4 linked regions of the Homo sapiens genome follow. The protein of the gene in region 1 purifies or fractionates together with the protein of each later gene. This does not show direct contact. Each region holds a gene or a part of one and is shown in the gene's direction. Other genes may lie near its edges.

Region 1 (6,414 bases):
CATCAATTCAACACACACAGAGGAGACAAAAGGGGCCCGATATCAGCACATGGCCCATTCCAGGAGCCGCAGTGTGGGTGAATTGTGGGATTCAAGCGGGGAGGAGGCTCCTTAAGTCAGACTGAAGAGCATGAACTTTCACCCACGGGCAGTGGGGAGCCATGCAGGATGCTAAGCGGGGGAGTGAAATCTGACTTCACTTTAGAACACTTTGATGACCACAGCCTCCCCGAGTCCAGATCTCTGGTGATGGAGAGCCCTCTGGGAAAATTCCACAATAAAGAGACTACCTAGAGAAGAATGTATGCTGTTTAAAACCCATCCCTTCCTCAGAGGTAACCACTTCTACTATTACCTTGGTATGAATCCATTCAGAACTTTTTTCTACTGCTTGTGACTGGTAAGATAAAAAAACAAAAAAATTTTTTAAAAATTAAAAAGAACTATTGTGCCTTCACACACACACACACACACACACACACACACGCAAGTTTTGTCTTCTCAGTAGTTGGGGTGTACTCTCCGATACATTCTGGTTCACTCCTTTTCACTACTGCATACTACTCCACTGTGCGAATAGGCCACAGTTTACTTGTTCACTCTCCACCTGATGGGCATTTATGTTGTTTTGAATTTCTGCTAAGATTGAAATAAACATCTTTGCACGTAAGTGTATATGTTTGTCTCAGATCTACGCCTAGAGTGGAATAGGTGGGTTGTGGAGTGAGTCCCTCCTTAGTTGTATGAAACATCGCTGAATTGCTTTCTAAGGCGGCTACCAGCTCACTCCCCACCCCCCAGCAGCTATACTTTCCTTGAATCCTAGTCACTCACTATTGATAGACACTTACATCTTTGTCATTTTGCTGAGTGTGAAATACAGCCTCATTCTTGTTTGTTTTCTTTTCTTTCCCTCCCCCTTTTTTTTGGGGGGGGCAGGGTCTTACTCTGTAGCCCAGGCTGGAGTGCAGGGGTGTGATCACAGCTCCCTGCAGCCTTGACCTCCCAGGCTCAAGCAATCCTCCTGCCTCGGCCTCCCAGGTAGCTGGGACTACAGGTGCACACCACCATGCCCAGCTAATTTTTGTATTTTTTGGTAGAGACAGGATTTCACTTTTTTGCCTAGGCTGGTCTTGAACTCCTGGGCTCAAGCGATCCTCCTGCCTCAGCCTCCCGAAGTTCTGGGATTACAGGTATGAGCCACCATGCCTGGCCTCTCATCCTTGTTTTAATCCATCTTGTCATTTTATATTATATTATATTATTTTATTTTATTTTTATTTACTTATTTTTGAGACACAGTTTCGCTCTTGTTGCCCAGGCTGGAGTGCAATGGCTCGATCCTGGTTCACTGCAGTCTCCAGCTCCCAGGTTCAAGTGATTCTCCTGCCTCAGCCTCCCAAGTAGCTGGGACTACAGGTGCACACCACCACGCCCAGCTAATTTTGTATTTTTAGTAGAGATGAAGTTTTACCATGTTGGCCAGGCTGGTCTCAAACTCCTGACCTCAGGTGATCCGCCCACCTCAGCCTCCCAAAGTGCTAGGATTACAGGCCTGAGCCACCGCACCAGCCCACCTTGTCATTTTAGATGGCTGCAGAATATTCTGCAGAAAGGGTGTGATTTAGCCAGGCCTTGGGTGTTTGCTTGGAAAGTTTTTTTTTTTTGTCTGTCAATTTGATGGGAAAAAGTAGTATTTCACCATTGTTTCAATTTGAATTTTCTCAAATGCCAAGGAAGTTGAGTGTCCATTTTCCTGTTTCTGTTCCTCACCCTTTAGGCTGGTGAATTGCCTGTTTATATTCTTTGTCCATTGTCCCAGTGGATGTTGTCCTTATCTATGAAGACTTTTGTGAAGCATCCTCCGTTATTGATTTATTTCTTTAAAAACAAAACCAAAGGAGGGCATAGGCCCAGAGAGCCTGGCTGGCCTCAGAAGGGGCTACTCTGATTGAGGGGCATGTGCTCTGGGCAAAAGTAGCAGTTGGGCTGCCTCCAACTGCTACTTTTTGAGAAATTGAGGCCAGCAGTGGCGTGGGGCAGCCCATTGCCCACCTGGTAGGATTAGAGGGCCGCCTCAGCGGCCTCCCTGACAACACAGGTGACCCCAATTCCTCATCAGCATCTCCAGCCCCTGGTGGGCAGAGGGCACAGGCGAGATCAAGCATCTCAGCTCCCAACATTGCACCATGGGGACTGAGACCCAGAGAAGTCAAGCGACACCCCCAAGCTTACACAGGAGTGGGTAGTCCAGCTGGGGCTCCCTACAGAAGGCAGGATGCTGTGCCCCATTCCACACCTCCAGCCCCAGTCAGCAGCTTGGAGCACTCCCAGCCCAATCAGGGCTGATTGGAGTGGTGGGGGTGGGCTGCTGGTATATAAGCCTAGTGGGCAGGCCCAGCAGCCTCACACCCGGGTGAGGGGTCTGCTGGCTGCACCTGTCGGTCTCATGGCTCCTGGGAGCGTCACCAGCGACATCTCACCCTCCTCGACTTCCACAGCAGGATCATCCAGGTCTCCTGAATCTGAAAAGCCAGGTGAGCAAGAGGAGGCAGCTCCTCCCTCATCCCTGCGAGCCCACTCCCTGGGTTGCCTTTGATGCTCCACCCCTGCTTCTCGTTCTTTCCCAGCCTGGCCCCAGCACCTACCCAGCACCCACCCAGCACTCACCCAGCACTCACCCAGCACCCACCCAGCACCAAGCTGCTGAGCTCAACTGCCTTTTGGCTGAAGAGCTGATCTACAGGTAGCAAGGCCAGGTAGGGCCTGGGGGCTGGGGCCGGCCTCGCTCAGGGAAGAGCCACAGGGCCTTCCAGCTGGAGCCCGTTTCCTGCTGGGACCGTAGCCCGTAGCCAGGCTGCAGCTGTGGGCAGCTAGTTGGAGGGACTGGGGCAGGAGCATTTTATGCAGGGCTAGGCATTCCGATTTTCAACCAAAAAACACCTCAGGGTTTATCTGGACATGAGGGTGCACCGAGGCAAACCAGGCCCAGTTCACTCCCTCGAGGACCTCCCGGTCTGATGGGGAAGCCTGGCCCATGGCTTGTTGCTGTTTGCTAATGTGATGTGTGCTTCAGTGGCGGTAATCCAGAGCTGGAGGAGCCCAGAGGAGTCCTCTAACCCACTCTGGGAGGTCAGGGAAAGCTTCCTAGAAGAGGTGACCCTGAAGGATGGGTGTGCCTCAGCCGGGGGAAGTGTTCTATTTGCCAAGACACCTAGGGAGATAGGGAGGGGGTCCAGGTGCCGAGAAGTAAAAGGGCAGAGTTAACTGGGAAGTCAGAGGTGTCCAAACCAAGGTGCATTTTGAGCCTTGAAGGATGAGTGAGAGCAGCCTGCATGACCGGGAGGAGAGAGGCAGCCCAGGCAGAGGAAACGGCATGGGCTAAGGCCCAGAGGCCAGCGCACCAGCAGCTTGTCTCGGAAGCTGCATCTTCCTTCTGGGAAGGAGGGAAGTGCTGGGGCAGTGCTAGGGGAGCAGTGGGAGGGCCTCCAAGGCGGTCTTCAGTTAGGTCAACTTTTATCTTGAACAGGGAGCCATGGACGGTTTCAAGCAGGGAGGTGAGGGGTGTGAGATACAGCGAGGAGAATGCATGCGGTGGGGAAGAGGCAGTGGGGAGGAGGCTGGGGCTGGGGAGTTGGAGAGGAGAGGCCAGAATATGGAGAGAAAAGCCTATGGGGAGGCCTCGAGTGGGTGTGGTGAGGAGGAAAGGGCCCAGAATGCCCCCAGTTCTTGCTTGGATGTTGGGTAGGTATGGGCAGTGGGGGCATGGGGCATTCCTGGAAGAGAGAGGAGGGGCAGATTTGGGGGGCTGAGCTCTGTTCTGGACATCCTGGTATACAGCAGGCATGGAATAGCTGCCGAATGAGGGGCTGGGATGAGAGGGAACAGACCTGAGGGAGGACTCCTGGGGGTGGCTCTCTGGGACAGACATGGTCTGGGGGAAGCAGAGGAGGGGTTGGAGCTGCTCGTGAAGTCAGGCCAAGCGAAGACCCTTGGGAAGCCCTGTAGCACTGCAGCTGGGAGGGCTCAGACCTCCTTAGAGGCCCCCGTCCCCACTGTACGGATGGGAAGACTGAGGCCTAGAGGGAAGAATGAAACTCCCGAGAACCCGGGAGTGACCCAGGACTACACCAGCTCAACGCCTTTGGCCCCCAAATGAATATTCCCACACTGGGCTCGTCATGGCCAGGACCCAACAGGGGTCGAAGTGATTAGGTCTCTTTATAATTTTGCTCTAGATCTAGAGTTTCATGGTTTTTTTTTTCTATTGAAAAAAAATTTTAATATAGCCAATTTTTTTTTTTTTTTTGAGACAGGGTCTTGCTTTGTCACCCAGGCTGGAGTGCAGTGGTGTGATCTCAGCTCACTGCAGTCTCCACTTCCCAGGCTCAAGCAATCTTCCCACCTCAGCCTCCCAAGTAGCTAGGCCTATAGGCACACACCACCACACTCTGCTCATTTTTAAAGATTTTCGTAGAGTCGAGGTCTCACGATATTGCCCAGAATTTAAGTCTTTAAATTCTGCAGATTGATCAGAAATCAACATTTCCATTCACCACATTTAAATCCGGTTTCATATTTAAATCCCTTTTATGCATTTCATGGTGACTGACAACTTCTCATGCTTCCCCCACCCTTGATCCCACTTCATTTGCAACTATTTTATAACACCTTATTGAGAAATAATTCCCATACAATACAATTCACCCTTTAAAGTGTACAATGGCTTTTGGTATACTCAGAGTTGTGTATCCATCTCTATAATCAATTTTAGAATATTTTCATCACTTCAAGAAAACCAGTACCCATTAGCAGTCACTCTCCACCCCCACTCCCCAGCCCTGGCAACCACCAATCTGCTTTCTGCATCTATGGACTTCTTATTCTGGACATTTCATATAAATGGAATCAGACAGTATGTGGCTTTTTCTGACTGCCTTTTTTCACTTTGCATGTTTCAGGGCTCCTCCATGTCGTAGCCAGGGCTTCACTCCTTTGTATGGCTGGATAATATTCCACGGGATGGGTAGCGACCACATTTTGTTCATCCATCTGTCAATCATTCATCATGGATGTTTGGGCTGGTTCCATCTTTGGGCCGACATGAATAGTGCTGCTATGAACATTCATGTGTACATTTTTGTGTGGACATGCGTTTTCATTTCCCTCAGGTATATACCGAAGAGTGGAATTTTTTGGTAACTTTTTATTATGAAAACTTTCAGGGCCGAGCATGGTGGCTCATGCTTGTAATCCTAGCACTTTGGGAGACTGAGGTGGGAAGATAGCTTGAACTCAGGAGTTTGAGACTAAACTGAGCAATGTAGTGAGACCTGTGTCAAATAACAATAACAATAATAATAATAATAATAATAATAATAATAATAATGATAATAATACAAACATTAGCCAGGCGTGGTGGTGTGTGCCTGTGGTCCCAGCTACTTCGGAGACTGAGGCAAGAGGATCACTTGAGCTGGAGAGGTCAAGGCTGCAGTGAGCCATGATTGTGGCACTGCACTCCAGCTTGGGTGACAGATTGAGACCCTGTCTCCATAAAACAAAACAAAAAACTTTCAAATGGATACAAAAGTAGACTACCAAATGGTCTGTAACTCCCTTCCACTGTACCCGTCACCCAGCTCCAACAGTCACCATCTTGTGGACACTCTTGTTTCATCTGCTGGGTTATTTCAAAGCAAATGCTGGATTTATGTATCATTTCATCTGTAAATATCTTTTATAATATTTACCTTTAACAGATAAGAGCCTTTTAAAAAGCAATTGTAATACCATTAGCACACTTGAAACAATATTATCCCTAATATCCGATATTTCCTTCCAGTGCTCACATTTATCTGTTGCCTTTCTTTTTCCAGTTGGATTGTTCAAATCCTGCTCTGGGAATGAGCATTTGGTTGAGAGGTTTCCTAAGGACCTTTAGTCCATAGGGTGCCCCTCCCACTTTTTCTTTCCCCCCTTATTTGTGGAAGAAACCCGGCTGTGTGCCCTGGAGAGTCTCTCAGTCTGGGTGCCTCTGAGAATGTGCACATAGCCCCCGGAGGTCCTGTAAACCCACAGTTACGAAATTCACCCAATTTAGATTGTTTTTCTAAAGGAATACTCCATTCTTTAAAAAGAGAGATTTGGCTGGGCACGGTGGCTCAAGCCTGTAATCCCAGCACTTTGGGAGGCCGAGGCGGGTGGGTCATGAGGTCAGGAGTTCAAGACCAGCCTGGCCAACATGGTGAAACCTTGTCTCTACTAAAAATACAAAAATCAGCCAGGTATGGTGGCAGCGCCTGTAATCCCAGCTACTTGGGAGGCTGAGGCAGGAGAACTGCTTGAACCCAGGAGGTGGAGGTTGCAGTGAGCTGAGATCACGCCATTGCACTCCAGCCTGGGGACATAGAG
Region 2 (2,244 bases), on another chromosome or scaffold:
TCAGAGGGGCCACAGCCCTTCTCCTCCATGGGAGGCCCTGGAGCCTGATAGAAATCAGTGGTGTGGGGCACTGTAGAGACTAGCCAGCTCCCGACGGAAGGGGTCTGTGTCTTGTATTGATCCCATCAGTGCCCGGCACTCCCTTCACCCAGGTGCTGACGTGCCGGGGTTGAGCTGGCACCCCGGGATGTGATGTAAGAACGCCCTGCGCGTCAGCCTGGAACGGGCTTGATTGCTGCCCTTAACTGTGTTCTGAAGTTTCACAGCTTGGCTTCAGCCTATCAGCGCATACATTGGCATGAATTTTGTGAATTAGGGTGTTAAAAACTGGAATTGAATTTGTACAAAAAGAGAATATATTTATCACTAATTATTTTCTTAATGTAGGAATGTACCGTTAAAAAGGACCAAAAGTTTTTGGTCTGGGTCAAAAAATACGAATGTGTTCTCAGGCTCGTGGTCCCTCTTATTTTCTTCTGGAAACACGAGGTTGCATTTACATGCATTGCTCCCTCTTTCATGTCCACTGAAAACTCACTCTCTCAGGGCTAATTGATTTACTGTTGGCTTTTTATTATTTGCCTTTGAAGTCAAAAGGCACCAGTATCCCAAGCTTTTTTTCCCTATCGAATCCTGTCTTGTCTTCAAGAAAGGTCTGGGGGTCTTTGTATTGTGACCCAGGCCACAGCTGCCCGCCCCCCGCCCCCGACCCACCCCGCCCTGCCCCTGCATTGTGTTTTCTGGGAGGTTTGAAAGAGGCCCCCTGGAGCATATTGATTTCCCAATAAATGTAAGATTTGGGCACTTGCAGAGGGGTCCAGAAGAGAAAGGGTTGGAGGCCTCCACACCTGTGGGCACCGCTCCTGTCCTCTCCACTGTGTCTTGCCTTCTCAGTTTCCTTCTCCTCTGCAGTGACTGTGCCGCCCTCTGTGGTCTCCCCAGGACCAGTGTTGAGGCACCACTTCAGTAGATCCCCCCAGATCCTTGGAAGGTCTGAGTGGCCACGAGAGGGTGGTGAGAGTTGGCAAGGTGGGCCTTCCTGCAGGGACCACGGGGGGTCAGCATCCTTGCCTCCGTTCTAGACACAGGTGAATGTCAGTGGGCACCCACACTGGCGGAGACTCCAGTGTGAGGGCAAGGAGGAGCCTAGTGAGACTGGATCCTCTGCAGGTGGAAAAATAGGACCTTCTCAGAGTTGGCTGTCACATACAAATTAACAGGGACTGTGGGTGACGTTTCTAACAATAATAATTAAAAAACAACAACCCTGCAGCACATGTCAGCCTGGCGTTGGGCAAGTCTGCCACCTTTCTTTTATTTCGATGTGTAATGGTTCACATGATTTGGATGAGAAAAGGAGGGATCAAACTTTATAGACAAAACCCAGCTGTGTGAAAAACAGGATTAATGCCAGTGATTGGGGATGATCAAAGAGAAACCTTACTTTTTCTCCCCCAGTACTCATTCCACTAAAGGGCGAATTGGCAGAGTTCGGCATCCCTGGGGGGAAAGAGAAGTGCTAGAATCATGCAACGTGTGAGTGACGATAATTCCAAGATCAAAACTTACACACTTAATCTGCTAACTCTTATGGTGAGGGTTTCTTGCCATAGATGCTATGTGGGTCTGTTTCTAAGTAGAATCACTATATTACCCCAGTTAATAAAGAAACATGGATTTAGCAGATTTAAGGTTAATATTGTTTAAATTTAAATAACCTTAAAATAAATCTCTTTCTCTTCTATTATGGCTCTTGACAGATTATACATTTCAGGCACCAATTAGGCAAAGCTTTAGCCTAATTCCACTGTACATATTCTAATTTTTGTGTATGTTTAATCATGCCTCTTTTTAAAATTTCCCAAACTTACTCATGTCTCTATATCATAAGCCTGGTTCCCATATTTAGAGTCACACAGAATTTGGACATTTAATAGAATGTTGCAGCCTAAAAGCGTTTCCCCCGAGTGGGCTTGTAGAATGTTTTTTTGGAAACCAAAACATCCTCATGTTTGCCACAGCCTTAGCAGTTGACGGGCCTCATTCTCACGCACTGAAGGGCAGAGACCCCTTGCTGAGAGATGAAGTCCGTGCTGATGTGCAGACAGCCCCTTGCACTCTAGAGAAGCAACGAACCAACCAAATCTCAGTAAAGGACTTTTTTTTTTTTTTTAACGAAGCCCAGTGGGTTATTTTGATTTTTTTCTTTTCCCCCTGGGGTGAAGGGAGGAGAACTTTAGGGAA
Region 3 (3,500 bases), on another chromosome or scaffold:
CTCGTAATTTCATTAGTTTTTTTTGGTTCTTTTTTTGTTTGTTTGTTTTGTTTTTTTTGTGGTTATTGTTTTTACTAACCAAGTTGATGAGGGAAATGAAAGTAGTTCAAGAGTAAACACATCTCAGTTTCTGCCCTGAAGTGATTTCTGACAATTTTATTCAGTTTTGTACTTGTATTTTACACAGGAGAAATCCACTCATCCATTCTCTTCACGTGTCCATTAATGTCAGTCCTTCCTAGTCTGTCTTTAAAGCCCCTATCAGCTAGATACTCAGTGTCCAACAGTCCTGCTGATGCTACTTTTAGAATTCTGGCCCAGTAGAGTATTTCTTTGATGTAAAATTATTCCTCTTCTCTGTTCTCAGGTCGCTTATGATGAAGCTACAGATGAATTTGCTTCTTACTTCAACAAACAGACTTCTCCCAAGATTCTCATCACAACATCAGATAGACCTCATGGGGTAAACACATTGATTAATTTAGTTCTTGAATTCTTAATTTTCTTATTACTTCTATTTAAAGTACTCTGTTCAGAAGAGTTAAACCATTAGTTAATTGCCTTAAAGAATGCCTGTGACTAAGTAAATAAAACGTAGCTCTGGTAATATGATGTAGGTTTACTAAACATGATTCTTCAAGATAGGATTTCTCAACCTCAACATTGTTAACATTTTAGCTGGAGAATTCTTTGTTATGGTGAGCTATCCTGTTCATTACAGGATGTTTAGCAGCTTCCCTGGCCTCTATGCTTTAGGTGCCAGTAGCAACCACACACCACTACCACTACCATCAGTCATAACCATCAAAAATGTCTCCAGACATTGCCAAATGTGTCCTCTGATGGAGCAGAATCGCCCCTAATTGAGAACCACTGCTTTAGGATGATCAGCCTTTGATAAAAGAGGACACACTGTTCGAGTTTCATGCTTTCCTCAATGTTGCTTTCTATTAATCATAATAATTATTATTTCTTTCCTTATGAATATGTACCACATAAGATTTTTATTCTTTTTTGAAAACTATTCAAAATTTTTGTTATTTTGTTTTGCAGAGAACAGTACGACTCTGTGAACAGCTCTCCACAGTTATACCAAACTCACATGTTTATTACAGAAGAGGACTGGCTCTGAAAAAAATTATTCCACAGTGCATCGCAAGAGATTTCACAGACCTGATTGTTATTAATGAAGATCGTAAAACCCCAAGTATCCTTTTTTTTTTTAAGGAGGTTTTCCTGTCCTCTCCCTCACCCCCCTTAAAAATATATTTAAAAGAATAAGGAAATATTGCCTATAACTTTCAGAAAATAATTTTTTTATCAGAAAATTGTATCTCTTTCCAAGAGTCTATAAACTGATTTTTCCTTTGTATTCACCAAACATTTATCAGGCACATGCTACAGCCAAGAGATTGTTGTAACTCTTAGTAAAAGATGCAGAGCTAAAACAAGAGACAACCAGGAAATTCATAGGTGGAGTAAATGGATATGTAAACTGACAAAATATAGTGTGGATGGTACAATTAAATAGAGAAATGCAGGATATAGTGGGGACCCTGTGACTGGTACAAAGTCTGCCCTGGGAGGAAAGACTTCCCATAGAAAGAGATGCTGAAGCTGGATCTAGATGGATGAGGGTGAAGGAGGGGAATAAGGCAGAGAAAAGCGCTCAGTGCAGAGGGACTACCATTTGGAAAGAGAGGAAGGAAAGGGCTGACCTAGTTGGGGATCTGCATATGGTTTGTTGTGGCTAGATTTTACATTGCCAGAGGTGGTATCACAGGATTAAGTTTTTGAGGTAGAGACTTGGGCCCATGTTATGTGTGTGTTCCAGTCTAAAACTTTTTCTGTGAGTCTCAGACCTGAGATGAATGTGTCACCTGAACCCAAGGTATTTCTTCCTGTTGAGATAAGAGATTTGATAAAGGATATCTAGGTTTGTTATTATTGTTGCTGTTTTATTTATTTATTTATTGAATGATGGCTATGAGTTCAGTAACCTTAAAGATGACCAATTGAATGAGTCATCTTTATGATTTTTAATTTCATTAAAATAAAATTATAAAGAATTTACAAAATAGGGACAAGACTTTCTGTGCTGCCAGAATAACATTTTATTTCTAATATCAGTGAACACTCTATTAGTGGTTTAAAAGGCTGTTTTTAAAAAATCTAACTTTTATGACTTTAATTGTTATCAATATAACTTACTTTATCCACTTGTACTAGTAGCTTTCCAGAAACTACTATAACAAGCTTTGTAATGTGTTTTGTTGGCCATATTATAATTTGGCTTAACTGGATTAATGTACCAAAATATCTAAAATCTCTTGAATACTTAACTACTCCAGAAAAAAATTATTTTTAAGGTAGTTGCTGCCTCTTTTTCTTTTTTTAAACTGCCTCCACAAAGTGGCAAGGTCTGTTTTCCTCTTTTTATTTTTGGCAGTTAAAAAACAACTGTCATCACTTTGAGGCCACTAGTAACTCTGCTAAGAAGCAGGCATTCATCAATTCAATAAATGTTCTATCCCTGTTTTATCCAGGGTGTTTTATATAGTCACACAAATTTCACTTATACCATCTATTGCCTTTAAAAAGTTTACATTTTCTGGCCGGATGCGGTGGCTCACACCTGTAGTCCCAGCACTTTGGGAGGCCTAGGCCAGCAGATTGCTTGAGGTCAGGAGTTTGAGACCAGCCTAGCCAACACAGCAAAATCCCATCTCTACTAAAAATACAAAAATTAGTTGGGCGTGTTGGTGCATGCCTGTAATCCCACCTACTTGGGAGGCTGATGCACTAGAATTACTTGAACCCGGGAGGCAAAGGTTGCCATGAGCAGAGATGGTGCCACTGCACTCCAGCCTGGGTGACAGGGCAAGACTCTGTCAAAAAAAAAAAAATGGTGATTATCCTAGAGACTTAGCATGGGTTCAGGAATAAAAATCACAACTCCTAATGGTGACACATGGGGGGAAAGTTGAAAAAACAGGATTTAGCCTGTGGGAAAGTAGATTCTAGGAACATGGCGTCTTTCTAAAGACCATTGGAGGGGCTACTGTGTGGAAGAGTAGTGCTGAATGGTGAAAGTTAAAGGGATATACTTTTTTGACTTATTCTAAAATAGAATTTCATCAGCTGTCTAAACTGTAGAAACCTAGTAGTGGCTTTGAGTCAGGGCAGCTGTGATATCAAATACAGATTCCATTATTTTCTAGTTTTGTGATTTTAGTCACGTTTCTTAGCCACTCAATTTCCTCGTTTTTTAAATGTGGGAAATAATACCTATCTTTAGAGTTCCCACAAAGATCACATTAAATGTATTATGTTTATAAAGCATAGTGTCTGGCACATGGTAGGCATTTTAGTAAACGTGGTATAGTGAGAAGCATGTAAACTTTATCTGTACAGACCTACATCCTCTATTCATTATTTCTAAATGGGGAACTACTGTTATTTGAGGTAGGGTAATTATTTGTGCTACACTCTTGGCAGCT
Region 4 (3,500 bases), on another chromosome or scaffold:
GTTTCCCCTCCTCTTCTGTTTTTGTTTTTCATTGCGGTAGCTAAACAGCCTTCATTTGCCATGAATAAGCAACCTAACTTTAAAAGCCTTTATCCACTTGTTCGATTTAACAGAGTTTCTTTATCTCCTTTCACATACATCTCAGCAGGGAAATTCTAATAGAAGTGTTCTTCATTCATGCCGGTGCTACATTTAAATGCAGCTGCAAGTTAACTGCCTCTACTCAGTGACCTCAGCAAGTGATGTCCCTAGTAATAGTGGCCCAAGAAATACTGGCCATAATGAATGAAGATAACACCTTTAAATATTTTTTAAGTCCTTGGGCTTGGTCAGTTAATACAAATGAGTTGTTCAGTAATGCTAGTCACAAAAGAGAATTGATTCTGTGTTCTAAATGTAAATCTCTGTGTGCTTTAATGACACAATTTCAGAACTAGCTCCACATTTTCCATGAAGTACGCTGGGAAAAATAGTAGTTAAGTATGTATTCTTCACCATTGAAATTCTAGGCATACTTTATTTTAAGAATGTAGATATCAATTCATTTTTTTGTTGTTGTTTATAATTTTATAGGACATTGTGCTCACTTTGGCAGCACATATACTATAATTTTATAGGAAATTATCAGTTCCTTGCTTAGCATAGTAAATGGCAAATATGGAAGAAAGGTCCTGTGGTACTTTGTTTTGAGAATGCAGATATTGATTCTTTTTTTTTGTTTATAATTTTATAGGAAATTATCAGTTCATTGCCTAGCATAGTAAATGACAAATATGGAAGGAAGGTCCTATTGTACTTACTAAGCCCCAGAGATCCTGCACATACAGTACGAGAAATCATTGAAGTTCTGCAAAAAGGAGATGGAAATGCACACAGGTAAAACCAAGTAGAATGGCTTGACTTCTTTATTCCTCTGTTAATGTTGAGTAGTGCATTCTTCCAGAAGTCCACTTACCCATCCATACCCTCTCTAAAACTGCTGAAAAGGTGAATTCCATTTTCAAGCCTATATTTTTGACAGATTCTAAAGTTTTTATCTTGACAAGGAAATAAAAGTGTCGTGCCAAAAGAACACCTGAGCACCTGGCACATAGTAGGCATTCAAGTGCGTGGTTTGGCTTTTATTTTGCTTTATTTTCAAAGCTACCGATACCACATATTTGAGTACCCTAGAGTATGGTGTCCATACAGCAGTGTAAATGTGTTGTTTTCTGGGTATGTTATTTGGTTTTTGGATTTTTTTTTTTTTTTTTTTGGTATTACACAAGTCAGACTCCCTTTATTGAGCCCTTGTTCTGTGCCAGGCACTATTCAGATCGTGGGACACAAACATTTTTAAAAACAGAACACATACTCGTATCACTTATTGTCTACATGCTTAACAGAAAGATAGACAATAATAATAGAGTGCGATACAGTCTGTGATAAGCTCTTAGAGGTTTTTGTGATAATATCACCACATTTCCTTTGCGATTTATCTTACCTTAATACCCCGTTCAACATACTCAACAGTAAGAAAGATACAGAGGTCCGCAGACGGGAGCTCCTAGAATCCATTTCTCCAGCTTTGTTAAGCTACCTGCAAGAACACGCCCAAGAAGTGGTGCTAGATAAGTCTGCGTGTGTGTTGGTGTCTGACATTCTGGGATCTGCCACTGGAGACGTTCAGCCTACCATGAATGCCATCGCCAGCTTGGCAGCAACAGGACTGCATCCTGGTGGCAAGGACGGAGAGGTAATGTGCCATTAAAGCACAGGCAGGAAAGCTGCAAAGGCCACAAAAACTTCGTTTTTGGACGATGTGGGGTGTCAGTAAGAAAGCTGGGGAGGGAGATACCTGTTGAATAAACAACCAAGAACCTCTCACAGCAGCAATTACATTCATCTTTAATTTTCTCTAACCATCTGGGTCAAAGCCTGGTACTTGGGAATGTTTTACAGATGTGAATTTGCTTATGAATGAAATCATTGCCAAGTATTGAGTGCCCAAGGTGCTTCTGACACCTGCGATTGGGGAAGAGAAGTGGGCCATGGATCTTAGAGAAGCCCTGGCTCCTGACCATATTAACAAATGGGAAAGATGAATGTACCTTGAAAGTTTCTCTATAAGGAGACTGAGCCGGTTGCCTCCCATACTTGCTAAGGAGTAGCCCAAATAACTGGGAACGCTTGGTATTGCTCTTGAAGAGGAGTAAGGTTGAGCTGAAAAGATGCTTTCTTGATTCGCTCATCAGATAATCCCCTTCGGTGGTCATGTGTACTTAAACAGCATGCAGCATTGGGTTTTGATGTTTGTGCTATAGTGTTCTGTCCTGTAGGTTTATTTGTGTCTGAGAATGACATATTTCAATCCAAGACGTGATTAGCATTAAGATGAGCCTTGTGCTGCTACTGTTCAGAGCAGATTAAATGAAGCGGAGACTGAAGCGCTGTGCCGTGGCTGTGTTATCTGGCATAACTGTCTTTCAGTCTGGGGATCAGAATAGATCTGTGGTCCCCCCAAGTATGATGGTTGTCCTAGATAAAGACCTCTTAAGCCTGTGGAACTTTAAAAGTGGCTGAGTCCTTATCTGTATGTGGTGGCATAAATAGTATGTATTCATTCAAATGTATTTGTATGAATGAAAACAACTTTTAAAATTAACTGTTCTTGACCCTTCATAGCTTCACATTGCAGAACATCCTGCAGGACATCTAGTTCTGAAGTGGTTAATAGAGCAAGATAAAAAGATGAAAGAAAATGGGAGAGAAGGTAGGCTATGAAATTTGACCTTTTCTTGTATCTCATGTGGAATTCCAGTAATTCCTGGCATCCCTGAACTTTATACCAGCCATTTAAGCTCAAATGAAGTTTGCCAAGTGTCTAGAAATGGTGTCTGTGAATAAGAAATGATTCAGTGGTTGCTGGTAATGCTTTTTCCCCTAGAAATATTTGTGCCTGAGAACTCTTTTAATTTTCTTTTTTCCAAACCCCCCCCGCCAGCCCCCCCCACCGCCCCCTCACTCTCTCTGTTTTCCTTCCTGTGCTGCTGCAGGCTTCTAACCTGGCTTGGTCAATGCCTTAAAATGCCATTCTAATGAGGATGGTGAGAGGGGGTAGGGGGCCCCAATTGTTGAGTATCATTACCTCAGTAGAAAGGCATGACATTTATCTCTATGTTTGAAGAAAGAATAAGCAGAAGAAGATTATCCTCGTAAGAGAGTTTTGGACTAGTGCCTGTTTATTTGGCATTGAAATACATGTGACCAAAGAGTAAGCCAGTCTTTGGCGCTTTCTGGTTTTTTGTAAGCCTTACAGCTGCTCTGTAGAAACTCAGCTCTCTAGAGAAGGACAGCATTAGCATTTGCATGCCATTCCCCTCTCAGTCCTATCTCCAACCAGACCTTCACTTACAAAATCCAAATTCCATCTGGTATTTAAACCACTGGAGAGATTTTTTTCCCCTACTGAGTTAAAACAGTTTGGGCTTTTCATTACAATGTCTGGAAAAAAGTGACAG

Evidence for each region. Proteins that work in one complex are often made in the same cells at the same time.
Region 2: the proteins of H1-8 (region 1) and DDX31 purify together in Homo sapiens (affinity purification with mass spectrometry; one large-scale study listed by BioGRID and IntAct). This does not show direct contact.
Region 3: the proteins of H1-8 (region 1) and RPF1 purify together in Homo sapiens (affinity purification with mass spectrometry; one large-scale study listed by BioGRID and IntAct). This does not show direct contact.
Region 4: the proteins of H1-8 (region 1) and PUM3 purify together in Homo sapiens (affinity purification with mass spectrometry; one large-scale study listed by BioGRID and IntAct). This does not show direct contact.

What each region holds. Positions count from the first base shown.
Region 1 is NC_000003.12:129,540,770-129,547,183, forward strand, and holds the start of H1-8 (histone H1.8), read left to right. Parts: upstream 1-2,405; 5' UTR 2,406-2,449; coding exon 2,450-2,537; intron 2,538-6,414. UniProt on the Homo sapiens protein: May play a key role in the control of gene expression during oogenesis and early embryogenesis, presumably through the perturbation of chromatin structure. Essential for meiotic maturation of germinal vesicle-stage oocytes.
Region 2 is NC_000009.12:132,592,497-132,594,740, reverse strand, and holds the end of DDX31 (ATP-dependent DNA helicase DDX31), read left to right. Parts: 3' UTR 1-1,744; downstream 1,745-2,244. UniProt on the Homo sapiens protein: May have DNA helicase activity and RNA helicase activity. Probably have ssDNA and RNA dependent ATPase activity. Plays a role in ribosome biogenesis and TP53/p53 regulation through its interaction with NPM1.
Region 3 is NC_000001.11:84,489,266-84,492,765, forward strand, and holds part of RPF1 (ribosome production factor 1), read left to right. Parts: intron 1-367; coding exon 368-463; intron 464-1,053; coding exon 1,054-1,207; intron 1,208-3,500.
Region 4 is NC_000009.12:2,809,596-2,813,095, reverse strand, and holds part of PUM3 (pumilio homolog 3), read left to right. Parts: intron 1-733; coding exon 734-876; intron 877-1,512; coding exon 1,513-1,735; intron 1,736-2,664; coding exon 2,665-2,752; intron 2,753-3,500. UniProt on the Homo sapiens protein: Inhibits the poly(ADP-ribosyl)ation activity of PARP1 and the degradation of PARP1 by CASP3 following genotoxic stress. Binds to double-stranded RNA or DNA without sequence specificity. Involved in development of the eye and of primordial germ cells.